Regions from separate parts of the Homo sapiens genome. Here region 1 is linked to region 2. A link means that fine-mapping ties the variant in region 2 to the expression of a gene that starts in the linked region. Tissue or cell type: whole blood. Region 2 holds a variant in brackets; the other region holds the start of a gene. All regions are shown on one strand. Distances are between the middles of the regions.

What was found. PIP is the estimated chance that this variant, and not a neighbour inherited with it, causes the effect.
Region 1: ORAI3 starts here. The variant in region 2 is fine-mapped to the expression of ORAI3 in whole blood (TOPMed, PIP 0.99).

Annotation. Positions count from the first base shown.
Region 1 is chr16:30,945,183-30,953,182 of GRCh38, forward strand. It overlaps ORAI3 (ORAI calcium release-activated calcium modulator 3), which reads left to right and starts at 3,886. Exons shown (of 2, transcript NM_152288.3): 1 at 3,886-4,335. The coding sequence starts at 4,108. It overlaps FBXL19 (F-box and leucine rich repeat protein 19), which reads left to right. Exons shown (of 11, transcript NM_001382779.1): 10 at 1,548-1,766; 11 at 1,870-3,601. The coding sequence ends at 2,048. RefSeq lists silencers at 3,312-3,561, 3,932-4,191, 4,232-4,281 and enhancers at 4,205-4,723, 5,012-5,241, 5,242-5,759, 7,819-8,000.
Region 2 is chr16:31,074,708-31,082,707 of GRCh38, forward strand. It overlaps ZNF646 (zinc finger protein 646), which reads left to right. Exons shown (of 3, transcript NM_014699.4): 2 at 1,539-6,994. The coding sequence starts at 1,618. Among named protein-coding and RNA genes, the nearest start is that of ZNF646, 4.3 kb to the left of the region's middle. RefSeq lists an enhancer at 1-481. The variant A/G (reference allele first, on the strand shown) is at 3,313.

The DNA of each region.
Region 1 (8,000 bases), 130 kb before region 2:
GGATAGGCTGGTGCCTGGGAGGCAGACAACACTGTGGTAAGAGTTCAGATTCAGCATCACCAGGCCTGGGTTTCCTGGCTGTAAACAGGAATGATGATCAGAGATCTTGTCTCCCAAGGCTGTGGTTCTTAAAGTGTGGTCGGGGGACCAGCAGCATCCACAAAACTGGAGAACTTGTTAAAAAAGTAAACTCTGGGCCGGGCATGGTGGCTCACACCTGTAATCCTAGCACTTTGGGAGGCCGAGGTGGGCAGATCACTTGAGGTCAGGAGTTTGAGACCAGCCTGGCCAACATGGTGAAACCCCATCTCTACTAAAAAAATACAAAAAATTAGCCAGGCGTGGTGGCAAATGCTTTTAATCCCAACTACTTGGGAGGCTGTGGCAAGGAGATTGCTTGAACCTGGGAGGTGGAAGTTGCAGTGAGCCGAGATTGCACCACTGTACTCCATCCTGGGTTACAGAGTGAGACTCCATCTCAAAAAAAAAAAAAAAAAAGTAAACTCTGGTCAGGTGCGGTGGCTCAGGCCTGTAATCCCAGCACTTTGGGAGGCCAAAGTGGGAGGATCAAGGCTACAGTGAGCTACAGGGAGGTTGAGGCTGCAGTAAGCTGTGATTGTACCACTGCACTCCAGCCTGGGTGACAGAGCAAGACTCCGTCTCGGGGAAAAAAAAAAAAAAAAAAAAAAAAGGAAAACGTATGTATGTCAGAAAAATGCATATAATATGTCAAATGGTGAGAAAAAGAGGAAAAAATGATGCAAGGAAGTGGTAGGAGTGTGGAGAATTACATTAGTTTTTGCATTGCTATAAAGAAATACCTTCGGCTGGGTAATTTATAAAGAAAAGAGGTTGAATTGGCTCAGGATTCTGCAAGCTGTACAGGAAGTATCGTGCCTGCGTCTGCTCAGCTTCTGGGGAAGCCTCACGTAGCTTTTACTCTTGATGGAACGTGAAGGAATCGGCATGTCACATGGCAAGACAGCAAGAGAGAGGAGGGGAGGTCACAGACTCTTTTATTTATTTATTTATTTATTTTGAGATGGAGTCTCGCTCTGTTGCCCAGGCTGGGGTGCAGTGGCACAATCGTGGCTCACTGCAACCTCCACCTCTCGGGTTCAAGTGATTCTCCTGCCTCAGCCTCCTGAGTAGCCGGGATTACAGGCGCCTGCCACCATACCCGGCTAATTTTTGTATGTTGAGTAGAGACAAGGTTTTGCCATGTTAGGCCAGGCTAGTCTCGAACTCCTGACCTCAAGTGAGCCGCCTGCCTCGGCTTCCCAAAGTGCTAGGATTACAGGCATGAGCCACCACGCCTGGCAGAATATTGTAGTCTCAAATACAATAATCATGGAAGGCCTCCGAGGAGGTGATGTGAGGAGTGGACAGATGAGGTCAGGCCATGAGGGTGTTTTTGAGAAGAGCAAGCCACAGAGTGCACCAGGTCACTCACTTATGTGGGAAGCAGGTGGAGGGCAGATGGTCTGGATACCTGGGCGCAGGGATGGGAGTGGCCAGGAGTGCTGACCTCTCATCTGGCTGCCCAGGGCAAACAGAGAGCCGTGGTCGGCTGCAGGGGGTGGCAGAACTGCGTCTGGCAGGTTTGGAGCTGACAGATGCCTCCCTGCGTCTCCTGCTGCGTCACGCACCCCAGCTGAGCGCCCTGGACCTGAGCCACTGCGCCCACGTCGGGGACCCCAGTGTTCACCTCCTCACGGCCCCCACGTCCCCACTCCGCGAGACCCTGGTGCACCTCAATCTTGCTGGTAAGCACGGTCCCCCATCCGTCCTGCCAGCCTGTGGATCCCCACGGCCAGTGCCAACCCCTTGCTCACCTGCCTGGTCTCAGCTCCACTGCCCCATCCCCAGGTTGCCACCGCCTAACGGACCACTGCCTCCCGCTGTTCCGCCGCTGCCCTCGTCTACGCCGCCTAGACCTGCGCTCCTGCCGCCAGCTCTCACCCGAAGCTTGTGCCCGGCTGGCAGCTGCCGGGCCCCCTGGCCCCTTCCGCTGCCCTGAGGAGAAGCTGCTTCTCAAGGACAGCTAGTTGGGCGCCCCCCACCCTCCCCCGGACTCGACAGGAGCCTGGACCTCCGGCTTCATTTCACCCCTGCTGGGAGGCCAGGTTCCCACCTCACCACCCTGGGATTCCTGAGTGTCAGTGACTTGGGATTCCCACCCAGGGACTCAAGCCAGCCACCCCCTTCTTTCCCCCCTGCACTGATATCTCTGGGGGTTTCTCCTTCCTATGTCCTGCCCCTGCTACCTGCTTCATTGTCCATCCCCTGGGGGAGTGGGTCAGAGGTACTGGAGGGTGCTGAGCCGAAGGGACGGTGGGAGGGGGGTTATGGTGCAAGTGTTGGGGGGGAGAATGGGGAAAGGACACACACAGGATATGGGAGCCAGGGGCTGGGGGAGGTGGAAGGGGCGGGGGGCGGGGCAGACAGCAGACCACCAAGGGTTCAGGGAACAAAGACCAGTTACTTGGAGTGGGGGGTGGGGGTGGGGCCACAAAAGGAAAACCGGAGGAGCAATTGGGGATCCAGGTGTCAGAGGTAGGGGAACCAGGGGCAAGCTGGGGCTGAGCTGGAGGTGGGGATGAGAGCAGGTGTGGGGACAGCAATACCCCCTTGGGGGTCACCTCTCTGCTTCCCCCCTCCCCAGGCTTCAGTTCCTTCCCCCTGACCCTGACTCCTTGAACGTCACTGAAAACGGCAGCTATTGCAAGGAGTGGGGGCCGCGGGCAGCCGCTCTTCAGCTCGCGGCCCAGGGGAGTGGCGAGGGGCGCCCCAACCCCCTGCCCGCCTCTCCGCACAATACTTGAACATTCATCTGTACTGAAGTGTTACTTGAACCGGGGGAATCTCGGACCTGGGGGAGCCGGGGTGTGAGGGGACTGGACCAGCTTGGACTGAGACCTGAGACCGGGCCGGTGGGCGCCCATTTGGGACTGCGCCACCCCCAGGCTTGTTCTTGTTTTACTGTATTGAGCGGCGGCACCCGCCGGACCCGCATTATGGCTGGGGGCGCCAGCCCAAGAATGGGGACCATGGGACTCCTCCAGCCTGGCTCTTCCCACTCTTTCATCGTCATGGAAACTTGTATCCCATTTGCCCAGGGAACTGCCACTCCTGGTTGCCATGGAAATAGCAGCCAACGGACACCTCCCGATGCCAGTGCTAAGGCTGGAAATGGCCCCCTCTTAGTTGCCATGGGAACCTAGTAACAGACTCTGCTGGCCCTCCTTCCCTGCCCCTTCCTCGAGCGCGGGGTGGGGCTTCGGGACCCCGGGGATGAGCCGGGCCAGGTCCCGCCCCTCCGCGCAGGCCTCCGGGGGGCCGGGGCTTACCATGTAGGGGAGGGGAGATCTATCCACATACCTCAGGTAACAGGGAGGTGCGCGGGTGGGGGGAGGGCTGGGCGGACCAAAGGCCGGAGGGGTGGGGCCTGGGGATAGCGAGAGGCTTGAGAATGGGGCCGCTTGGGGGAGGGAAGAGGCAGCCCGGCGAGGGGCAAGCGGGGGACCCAGCCGGGCTGGGCCCCTGGGCCCCGGGTCTGTACAATACGGTTTGCTATAAAACTCAAAATCTTCCAGCCGGGGCTGCGGAGTTCGTGTGTGTATCTGCGGGGTCCCTACCTACAGATGAGTGGGCTCACCTCTCCTGGACTCATTTTGGGAGGGATTTGGAAGTGTGGACACCTGGGGTGTCCAGCTGTACCTTGGAGGGGGCTGGGGTTGGCGTGCACCTCGGTGGGGTCCGGGCGCTTGGATAACGTTCTTGGTGGGTAGGGGTCGCGGGGAATCTCTGCGGGCCCGGGACTGCGGGGACTTGGTCCCCGGCTCCACCCCATCATGTGGCTAGCCCCGGCTCCGCCTCTGTCCCAGTTCCTGTTTTGGCCTCCGCTGTCCCGCTCCGGCTCCTGGGGCTCCCCGCAGACGCTGCTTTTCTTGCTCCACTGGGGGTGCCTCTTCCTGGGCGCCCGCCGCCTGCATCCTGCTCGTCCTGTCTGGGAATGGGGCCGCCCCCGGGCTTGGGCCGGCCCGGCTGGGGCCCCCGAGGCGCTTCCGCCCCGTAGTGACCGCCTGGTGCCGCCCCCCCCCCAGGATGAAGGGCGGCGAGGGGGACGCGGGCGAGCAGGCCCCGCTGAACCCTGAGGGCGAGAGCCCTGCAGGCTCGGCCACGTACCGGGAGTTCGTGCACCGCGGCTACCTGGACCTCATGGGGGCCAGTCAGCACTCGCTGCGGGCGCTCAGCTGGCGCCGCCTCTACCTCAGCCGGGCCAAGCTCAAAGCTTCCAGCCGCACGTCTGCCTTGCTCTCGGGCTTCGCCATGGTGAGGGGCCGGGAGGGGTCACACCCGGTGGGGCAGAGCAAGTGGGGGGCACAGGTCGGGGGGGGGGCGAAGTAAACAGGTCCCAAGGGAGACAGGTTAAAGGGGGCTTTCGTCAAAGGGGGAAGGAACAAGGTCCCGCGGGACTGAGCAAGTCCCTTCTTACGGATGTGTGTGTACAGGGGACCCCAGGAGACGGGGCCACCGGAGGACACGAAAGTCCTAAAGGTGTCGTAGTGGGAGTGGGGTGAACAAATCGCTGGTGGGGTTGACTGCAACAGTGAGGCAGAGTGGTCCAGATGGAGCCTGTACCTGGCAGAAGTGGTTCCTAAGTCCCAGTGCCAGCTTCAAAGGCAGGTCAGCTGGGTGGGGGCTGCATCAACAGGTGGGGGGCTCGAGATGGATTAGCTGGGTGGAAGGGTCACCCAGCTGAAGGTGGGCCCGTCCCAGGGAAGGTGGCCACTCTCCAGCGGGCCCAAGGGGTGCTAGTGTCAACCAGGAAAACTGACAAGAGATCATGCCCGGGAGGGAACCGCTGGGGAAGGAGGCTGATGAGGAAACTGATAAGCGAGTCTCAAGCTGATAAACCCCAGGTGCAGGAGGACGGTGTTGGCTAACGGTCTGCCCCAGCAGTGGCCTCACAGGAAGTGGGATGGAGGGAGGTCCCAGGGTGAGGATCAGCAGACACAGTCCTGGCTCCTCCCTGCTTGTGGCCAGCTGTGTGACCCTGGACAGGCCTCCACCCCGCTTGCAAGCCAGTGGGAAACTGAGATCATGGAGGGTGCGCCCTCTGTAGCCAGCCAAGTAACCGCCCCAGGGTGAGCCAGGCATGTCAGAGCAGGTCACGTACCAAGGATGGCTCAGACTAGCCTGCTAATTGGACAGGTGTGGAAAGTAAAAGCCTTGCCTCTGGGCAGGAGCGAATGAACTGGGACCCAGGGTTGCTGCTCTGTTAGTCTGGGGTTGCCCCACCATCACCCCAGGAAAAAGGAGAAAGTGAGCTGCAGGAGGTACTTTGGGGAACGCACTCCTGTGGGGGTGGATATCAGAGGCGGTTGGGGTGGGGACCATGGCGCTAGGGGATCTGGGCTAGTCCCTGCCCTGTCTGTGCCACAACCTCCATATTTGAACAATGACAGGGAAACTCTCTAACCCTAAGGGTCATCATAAGCCTATGGTCTTCTATGTGGGGTCCCAGAATCCACAGACCAGCTTACCTTTCATGATGGGGGCATCACCTAGGGACAGGATGTTGGCTCCCCTTCATCTGCACAGCCTGCAGAGGGAAGGGAGCAGCCACCCAAGCTGAGGGAGGTCAACCCCATGGTCCAGCCTGTTCCCAAGGAGACAATCCCTCCACGGCAGAATATGCAGGTGCAGGTTGCTGGGGTGACAGCTTAAGGGCCCGAGCCTTCTCTGCAGGAGGAAGGGGCTGGAGGTTTAGGTTCCGGGGGCAGGACTGGCCGCAGTCCTAGCAGGGGTGACCGAGGCTGGGCCAGGCTCTGGGAGAAACCAGGACTAAGCCTGGCCCAGATCCCTGTCTGTGGAAAACACCTCCTGACACCTGCCATGGCCCAATTTCCCAAAATACTCAGCCCTGTTTTCCTACCTCCACCCGCCAGCCTCTACACCTACCTTCTTCTTTCCCCAGGCCCAGAGCAATCGAATGGACCCTACAAGAACCAGGGATGGGGAGAGAGTGGGCTTCTGAAACTCAGGTGGCCTAAGTTAGAATAGCATTATACAAATTGTATCCAGCTGTCACTAAGCACCAGGCACTGCCCTCAGTGCCTTTATATACATCATCTGTTAGCCTACAAAGTGGGTACTGCTACTCTGGCCATTTTACAGATGAGGAAACTGAGGATCAGAGATGTTAAGACACCTGCCCAAGGTCCCACAGCAAGTAAGTGGCAGGATTTGAGCCTAAGCCGTCTGGTTCCAGACTCCAAATTTATAAATTCCTAGAATAGGGTCATCAACTCAAATGTTTGCAAAGGGCCAGGCAGGTAATATGGATGCCAAATTGGCTGGGTAGGGACTAGCAAGCAAGAGACCCCATGACATTGGGGGTGATGGCTCACACCTTTCATCCCAGCACTTTGGGAGGCCAAGGCAGGAGGATCGCTTGAGCCTAGGAGCCCAGGAGTTCGAGTCCAGCCAGCCTGGGCAACATAGCAAGACCTGGCATCTACCAAAAAAAAAAAAAGAGAGACCCCATGACCTTTCCAAGGGGAGCAGCCATGACTGATTTGAGCTGATAGTTGCCATGCAGGAACGCAGGCCAAGTGTGGCTAGTTCTTCCAAGTTTTCAAGGGGATCTGGAAATAGGGATATAAGAAATCTCTTCAGTTTTACAAGTTGGCAGCATCTTCCATTTTTTAAGAAACACACTGTGTGAGCCAAGCAAAACACGTCTGCAAGCTGGCAGTGGTCCACAGTGTGCCGATTTGTAAACTCTGTCCTCAGACTTTAGCATTCACTATAGCAAGAACAGCAAACACATACCTAGTGCTTACTCTGTGCCTGGCACTGTTCTTTTTCTTTTTCTTCCTTTTCCTTTTCCTTTCCTTTCCTCTTTCTTTTTCTTTCTTTCTTTTCTTTCTTATCTTTCTTTTTTTTTTTTTTTTGAGACAGAGTCCCACACTGTCACCCAGGCTGGAGTGCAGTGGTGCGATCTCGGCTCACTGCAACCTCTGCCTCCTGGGTTCAAGCAATTCTCCTGCCTTAGCCTCCCAAGCTCCTGAGTAGCCGGGATTACAGGCGCACACCACCACGCCCGGCTAATTTTTATATTTTTAGTAGAGACAGGGTTTCACCATGTTGGCCAGGCTGGTCTTGAACTCCTGACCTCAGGTGATCCGCCCAACTCGGCCTCCCAAAGTGTTGGGATGAAAGGCGTGAGCCACCACTCCCAGCCCATTTCATGTATATTTCATTTAATGTTTATACCAACCCTATAAGGCAGGGAGGTGCTGTTATCAATCTCTATTTCCAGATAGGAAATTGAGGCACACAGAGAACTGACTTGCTCAAGATTACACAGCTAGAGCAGAGAATGATCCCAGGCAGCCCAGCTCCAGAATCTGCTGTTTGATCCCTATGCAGTAAACCTGTTAGAAGCATGTCATCCAGCCCTTTTTTTTATTTTTATTTTTAATTTTTTTTTGAGACAGAGTCTTGCTCTGTTGCCCAGGCTGGAGTGCAGTCACATGATCTCGGCTCACTCAAACTTCTGCCTCCTGGGTTCAAGCAGTTCTCCTGCCTCAGCCTCTCAAGTAGCAGGGATTACAGGCATGTGCCACGATGCCCGGCTAATTTTTGTACTTTTAGTAGAGACGGGGTTTCGCCATGTTGGCCAGGTTGGTCTCAAACTCCTGACCTCAGGTGATCCACACACTTTGGCCTCCCAAAGTGCTGGGATTATAGGCATGAACCGCCGCGCCCGGCCATCCAGCCCTCTTGATAGGGAGGTGGGGAAACCAGAACAGAACAGAGCCTTTGCAAAGCTGTCCATTCGTTTACTCAACAGAGACTGAATGTCTCTGGTTTCTGCCAGGCACAGTTCTAGGTCCTAGGGATATGTATCAGTGATGTATCCCGATAGGCGGAAAAAATCTCTACAGTTGAGGTTATGGGGAGATCAGTACATCCCCTCTTGTCCCTGC
Region 2 (8,000 bases):
CCGCCGGTGCGAGGTAGGCGTCCTGAGAGGAAATTGGCAGACGAGATGAGTGAGGTCAGAGGACTTCATTGGTGGTTGACTAGGGGAGGGGACTTTTGATCAAAGGGGCTTTGTGAGGTGAGAATTCCGGGGGCAGGTTCAGTGAAGGGGTTTACGGTCGGAGACAGTTGTACTGGGGTCCCATGGGAAGAAGAGTCAGAGTTGGAGAAGGACAAGACGATGTAGGGGGCATGAGAGAGCAAGGGCTTTGGGATGAAGACCGCCTCAGTCAGGGGGTTTGCTGTTACGTGAACTAGAATAACAGGCATTGCCGTGTGTTCTGAGGATTGAGTAACACAATGAATATAGTTAGCACAGTGCCTGGCACATGGTAATATAATACTCTTCATGAGTTGCTGTCATCATCAGTATTAAGAGAGGAGGCAGAAGAAAAAAATGAGAAAGACTGGTGAGGGTAAGATCAGGAGGCATGGGAGAGAAAAGGTAGGCAATGAAGTGACATTACAACCTGGTATTGATGTTATTCCCAAGATGGAAGATAGTTTGAGTTCAAGGGAAGTAGATAAAAGAAGTCGCTAAGAGAGTCTTTTGGGGTTTTTTGTTTTTTTGAGATGGAGTCTCGCTCTGTCACCCAGGCTGGAGTGCTGTGGTGGGATCTCAGCTCACTGCAACCTCCACCTCCCAGGTTCAAGCAGTTCTTCAGCCTCAGCCTCCTGAGTAGCTAGAATTACAGGTGCCCACCACCACGCCCGGCTAATTTTTGTATTTTTAGTAGAGACAGGGTTTCACCATGTTGTCCAGGCTGGTCTTGAACTCCTGAACTCAGGTGATCCACCAGCCTCGGCCTCCCAAAGTGCTGGGATTACAGGCGTGAGCCACCACACCTGGCCCAGTTAAGAGAGTCTTAACTCTCTTAACTCTCTTGTCACAAGGAAAAGAGACCTTGTGACACTGAAATGACTCGGGGTGGTGGGGGAACAAGCCAGCCCTTTCCCTGAAGGAGGCCTCTAACCTCTCCTCTCAGGTCCTCAGCTATTAACTGGAGGAAACAGCTGCTTTTTCAGTGCTTCTCAGCTACTCTGTTTAGCTGAGAGATGAAGTAGGAAGATTTGGACTTCTCTTATTGAAAGGCCTAGAGAAGGTTTTGGTGTCCTTTTAAGATGTCACAGAAAATTTTTGTTTCAGGATTGTAGGGAGCAGATTCCTACTGTTCTTAAAGGACAGTAATGCCTTTTGAGTCTGGTCTGAAGAACATAACAGGTCTGTGATCAGAAGTAGGTTGCATCTCTCTCAACTTTAATTTCCTTAGCTATACCTGTAGGGATGACTTAAGCCTAGGGGAGCTCCTATATTTGGGAAGCTTGTGCACAGGGAAGCCTTAAATGATGGTGCCTGCAGATTGGATCTAGTAGAAATTAGGTCCTTGGGCATGGATGCTTGGGGAACCTCTCAGTGACCTCAGGTGAACTTGTTGCTCGTAGAGCCAAGAGGCGAAGTTAATTCAGGCCTTCCTTTTGACCACTGCCCCCTCTTCCTAGGCCTTGGCCCCTCCACCAGAGGAAGGTGCTGCCACGTGTCTGCTCCTTCTGAACCTCCAGGTTTCTGCTACGTTGCCCCATGGAGGACACACCCCCCTCACTCAGCTGCTCCGACTGTCAGCGCCACTTTCCCAGCCTCCCAGAGCTCTCTCGGCACCGAGAACTGCTCCATCCATCTCCCAACCAGGACAGTGAGGAGGCTGACAGCATCCCTCGGCCCTACCGTTGTCAGCAGTGTGGGCGGGGCTACCGTCACCCCGGGAGCCTGGTTAACCATCGTCGGACCCACGAGACTGGCCTTTTCCCCTGTACCACCTGTGGCAAGGACTTCTCCAATCCCATGGCTCTCAAGAGCCATATGAGGACACATGCTCCTGAGGGCCGCCGCAGGCACAGGCCCCCACGCCCCAAGGAAGCCACTCCACACCTCCAGGGTGAGACGGTGTCCACTGACTCCTGGGGCCAAAGGCTTGGCTCTAGTGAAGGCTGGGAAAACCAGACAAAACATACAGAAGAGACACCTGACTGTGAATCTGTACCTGACCCCAGGGCAGCTTCGGGTACGTGGGAAGATCTGCCCACCAGACAAAGAGAAGGCTTGGCAAGCCACCCAGGTCCTGAGGATGGTGCAGACGGCTGGGGACCCTCCACTAACTCTGCCAGAGCCCCTCCTCTCCCCATCCCAGCCAGCAGCCTTCTTAGCAACTTGGAACAGTATCTGGCTGAATCAGTAGTGAACTTCACAGGGGGCCAGGAGCCCACCCAGTCCCCTCCTGCTGAGGAGGAGCGGCGGTACAAATGTAGTCAGTGTGGCAAGACCTACAAGCACGCCGGGAGCCTCACCAACCACCGCCAGAGCCACACGCTGGGCATCTACCCCTGTGCCATCTGTTTCAAGGAGTTCTCTAACCTCATGGCTCTGAAGAACCACTCTCGACTGCATGCCCAGTATCGGCCTTACCACTGTCCCCACTGCCCCCGTGTCTTCCGGCTCCCCCGGGAGCTGCTGGAACACCAGCAGTCCCATGAGGGTGAAAGGCAGGAGCCACGCTGGGAGGAGAAAGGGATGCCCACCACCAATGGGCACACAGATGAGAGCAGCCAGGACCAGCTCCCCAGTGCACAGATGCTGAATGGCTCTGCGGAGCTCAGCACCTCTGGGGAGCTGGAGGACAGTGGCCTGGAGGAATACCGGCCTTTCCGCTGTGGGGACTGTGGCCGTACTTACCGCCATGCTGGGAGCCTCATCAACCATCGAAAGAGCCACCAGACAGGTGTCTACCCCTGCTCACTCTGTTCTAAGCAGCTGTTCAATGCGGCTGCCCTCAAAAACCATGTGCGGGCTCATCACAGGCCCAGGCAAGGAGTTGGGGAAAATGGGCAGCCATCAGTCCCACCAGCTCCCCTGCTGCTGGCTGAGACCACCCACAAAGAGGAAGAGGACCCCACCACCACCCTGGACCATCGGCCCTATAAGTGCAGTGAGTGTGGTCGTGCTTACCGCCACCGGGGGAGCCTGGTGAACCATCGCCACAGCCATCGGACTGGAGAGTACCAGTGCTCACTCTGTCCCCGCAAGTACCCCAATCTCATGGCCCTGCGCAACCACGTGCGGGTACATTGCAAGGCTGCTCGCCGAAGTGCAGACATCGGGGCTGAGGGTGCCCCCAGCCACCTCAAGGTAGAACTCCCGCCTGACCCAGTGGAGGCAGAGGCAGCCCCGCACACAGATCAGGACCATGTGTGCAAACATGAAGAAGAGGCCACGGACATC[A/G]CCCCAGCAGCAGACAAGACAGCAGCACATATCTGTAGCATCTGTGGGCTGCTCTTTGAAGACGCTGAGAGCCTTGAACGTCATGGCCTGACTCATGGGGCAGGGGAAAAGGAAAATAGCAGAACAGAGACCACAATGTCACCTCCTAGGGCCTTTGCCTGCCGAGACTGTGGAAAGAGCTATCGCCACTCAGGCAGCCTTATCAACCACAGGCAGACCCACCAGACAGGAGACTTCAGTTGTGGGGCCTGTGCCAAGCACTTCCACACCATGGCTGCCATGAAGAACCACTTGCGCCGGCACAGTCGGCGGCGGAGCAGGCGGCATCGGAAGCGGGCTGGCGGTGCCAGCGGTGGGAGAGAAGCCAAACTCCTGGCAGCGGAGAGCTGGACCCGGGAGCTAGAAGACAATGAAGGCCTGGAGTCTCCCCAAGACCCTTCAGGGGAAAGTCCTCATGGGGCTGAAGGCAACCTGGAAAGTGATGGGGACTGTTTGCAGGCTGAATCTGAAGGGGACAAATGTGGGCTTGAGAGGGATGAGACCCATTTCCAGGGTGATAAAGAGAGCGGAGGCACTGGGGAAGGACTGGAAAGGAAGGATGCCAGTTTACTTGACAACTTGGACATCCCAGGTGAGGAAGGTGGTGGCACTCACTTCTGCGATAGCCTCACTGGGGTGGATGAAGACCAGAAGCCAGCCACTGGCCAACCCAACTCCTCTTCCCACTCTGCCAATGCTGTCACTGGCTGGCAGGCTGGGGCCGCTCACACATGCTCTGACTGTGGGCATTCTTTCCCCCATGCCACTGGCCTGCTGAGCCACAGGCCCTGCCACCCACCAGGCATCTATCAGTGCTCCCTCTGCCCGAAGGAGTTTGACTCTCTGCCTGCCCTCCGCAGCCACTTCCAGAACCATAGGCCTGGGGAGGCGACCTCAGCACAGCCTTTCCTCTGCTGCCTCTGTGGCATGATCTTCCCTGGGCGGGCTGGCTACAGGCTTCACCGGCGCCAGGCCCACAGCTCCTCTGGCATGACTGAGGGCTCAGAGGAGGAGGGGGAAGAGGAAGGAGTGGCAGAGGCAGCCCCTGCACGCAGTCCACCACTGCAGCTCTCGGAAGCAGAGCTGCTGAATCAGCTGCAGCGGGAGGTGGAAGCGCTGGACAGTGCAGGGTATGGGCACATCTGTGGCTGCTGTGGTCAGACCTACGATGACCTGGGGAGCCTGGAGCGTCACCACCAAAGTCAGAGTTCTGGGACTACTGCAGACAAGGCTCCCAGCCCCTTGGGAGTGGCAGGTGATGCCATGGAGATGGTCGTGGACAGTGTCTTGGAGGACATAGTGAATTCTGTCTCTGGAGAGGGTGGAGATGCCAAGTCTCAAGAGGGAGCAGGCACCCCCTTGGGAGACAGCCTCTGCATCCAGGGTGGGGAAAGTTTGTTGGAGGCTCAGCCCCGCCCCTTCCGCTGCAACCAGTGTGGCAAGACCTATCGCCATGGGGGCAGCCTGGTGAACCACCGCAAGATCCACCAGACTGGAGACTTTCTCTGCCCTGTCTGCTCCCGCTGCTACCCCAACCTGGCTGCCTACCGTAATCATCTGCGGAACCACCCTCGCTGCAAAGGCTCTGAGCCCCAGGTTGGGCCCATCCCAGAGGCAGCAGGTAGCAGTGAGCTGCAGGTTGGGCCCATCCCAGAAGGAGGCAGCAACAAGCCCCAGCACATGGCAGAGGAGGGGCCGGGGCAAGCAGAAGTCGAGAAGCTCCAGGAAGAACTTAAAGTGGAGCCCCTGGAGGAAGTGGCCAGGGTGAAAGAAGAGGTGTGGGAGGAGACCACTGTGAAGGGGGAGGAGATAGAGCCCAGGCTGGAGACTGCCGAGAAGGGCTGCCAGACTGAAGCCAGCTCTGAGCGGCCCTTCAGCTGCGAGGTGTGTGGCCGATCCTACAAGCACGCCGGCAGCCTCATCAACCACCGGCAGAGCCACCAGACCGGCCACTTTGGCTGTCAGGCCTGCTCCAAGGGCTTCTCAAACCTCATGTCCCTCAAGAACCACCGGCGCATCCATGCAGATCCCCGACGTTTCCGCTGCAGCGAGTGTGGGAAGGCCTTCCGCCTGCGGAAACAGCTGGCCAGCCACCAGCGGGTCCACATGGAACGGCGTGGGGGTGGGGGCACCCGAAAGGCGACTCGGGAAGATCGGCCCTTCCGCTGTGGGCAGTGCGGGCGGACCTATCGCCACGCCGGCAGCCTCCTGAACCACCGGCGCAGCCACGAGACGGGCCAGTACAGCTGCCCCACCTGCCCCAAGACCTACTCCAACCGCATGGCCCTGAAGGACCACCAGAGGCTGCACTCAGAGAATCGGCGGCGACGGGCTGGACGGTCCAGGCGCACAGCTGTGCGTTGCGCCCTCTGTGGCCGCAGCTTCCCTGGCCGGGGATCTTTGGAGCGGCACCTGCGGGAGCATGAGGAGACAGAAAGGGAGCCAGCCAATGGCCAGGGAGGCCTGGATGGCACAGCGGCCAGTGAGGCGAACCTGACTGGCAGCCAGGGACTAGAGACCCAATTGGGTGGTGCTGAGCCAGTACCCCACTTGGAGGATGGAGTCCCAAGGCCAGGGGAGCGCAGTCAGAGCCCCATCAGGGCAGCAAGCTCAGAAGCCCCAGAGCCACTGTCCTGGGGTGCAGGGAAGGCAGGTGGGTGGCCGGTAGGTGGGGGACTGGGGAATCATAGTGGAGGCTGGGTTCCTCAGTTCCTAACTAGGTCAGAGGAGCCAGAGGACAGTGTCCACAGGAGTCCTTGCCACGCTGGTGACTGCCAGCTCAATGGACCTACTCTGAGTCACATGGATAGCTGGGACAACAGAGACAACAGCTCTCAGCTGCAGCCAGGGAGCCACTCCTCTTGCAGCCAGTGTGGCAAGACTTACTGCCAGTCAGGCAGCCTCTTGAACCACAACACCAACAAGACAGACCGACACTATTGCCTGCTCTGCTCCAAGGAGTTCTTAAATCCTGTGGCCACAAAGAGCCACAGCCACAACCACATAGACGCCCAGACCTTTGCCTGTCCTGACTGTGGCAAAGCCTTTGAGTCCCACCAGGAACTGGCCAGCCACCTGCAGGCTCATGCCCGGGGCCACAGCCAGGTGCCAGCCCAGATGGAGGAGGCCAGAGATCCCAAAGCCGGGACTGGGGAGGACCAGGTGGTTCTCCCTGGTCAAGGGAAAGCCCAGGAGGCCCCATCAGAAACCCCCAGAGGCCCAGGAGAGAGTGTGGAGAGAGCCAGGGGAGGACAAGCGGTGACGTCCATGGCGGCTGAGGACAAGGAGCGGCCCTTCCGCTGCACCCAGTGCGGGCGCTCCTACCGCCATGCTGGCAGCCTGCTGAACCACCAGAAGGCCCACACCACAGGGTTGTACCCGTGCTCCCTCTGTCCCAAACTTCTCCCTAACCTGCTGTCTCTTAAGAACCACAGCAGGACCCACACGGACCCCAAGCGCCACTGCTGCAGCATCTGTGGCAAGGCCTTTCGGACAGCTGCCCGGCTGGAGGGCCACGGGCGGGTCCATGCACCCCGGGAGGGGCCTTTCACCTGCCCCCATTGTCCCCGCCACTTCCGCCGCCGAATCAGCTTCGTGCAGCACCAGCAGCAGCACCAGGAGGAGTGGACGGTGGCCGGCTCCGGTAGGGGGCATGAAGGGTCCCAGGAGGAGGTGGGCACACAGTGGAGGGGGAAGTCCAGCCCCAAAGTCGGTGGGGGAGCAAGGAGTGAGAGGAGAGAGCCCCGGGGATTCTAAGAGGTGGGTGGGGGCTTGGCTATGGGGTGAGAGAAGTAGCTTGAGGATGTGCTGAGCTGAGCACCCGCAAGTCAGGTATAACAAATAGCAGGGTGGGTTGGGCAGCACGTGGGGGCGTGGTCAGGCCGAGGCTGCTACCTGGGCTCCTCCATTACACTGTAGCCAGAATGGAATGGTCTTTCTGTTCAGGGGAAGGTCACTGGGTACCCCCTGGCTGCTGTGTCTGGAAACCCTCCTGAGTCAGCCAGTAAAGTAATGACTTCCAGAGAAAAAGAGGAAGCCATTGGTTTGGTCTAGGTTCCATTCTTTCCTGGAGCAGGCCGGGTGCCAGGGAACAAGGGATGGGGCATGGGCTCCACGGCTTCCCTGCTGACTTGGCCACGGAAACTGGTTCACTGGTTGGCACCCTACTCCCTGTCCCTCTTTCCCTGCGCCTTGTCTCTGCTGCTCCTCTCCTTGGAAACTAGACCTCTGGTCCTTCCCTGTCAGTGTTGCTCCCATCTCTTCTCTAACCTTTATTCAGCCCCTTTTCCCTCTGCTGCCAACGGCCTTTTTAGGATCCAACCAAACCACCCTTTCTACCTGCGCACCCTGCCACCCTCTGCACACCTTTAACTGGAGGACTGAGTCACAGATAATTGTTTCCTTGAAGTCCAGGCCCAGCTGCAGCAACAACAGTCATTAGCCCGTGTCACATCCCTGATCAGAGGGCATCTCCGTGGGGAATCGCCTCCACCCAGCACTGCTGGAAGCCGCAGCTGCCAGGGAGTGGGGCGGCCGGTTCCCTCAGCAGGACCTGGGCTGGCCTCTCCACCTCCCCTAGTAGAGGCGGACCCATTCCATCTAGTGGCCACCGAGGGTGGGTGGCCCTGAGATGGTGGGCCCTTGACAGG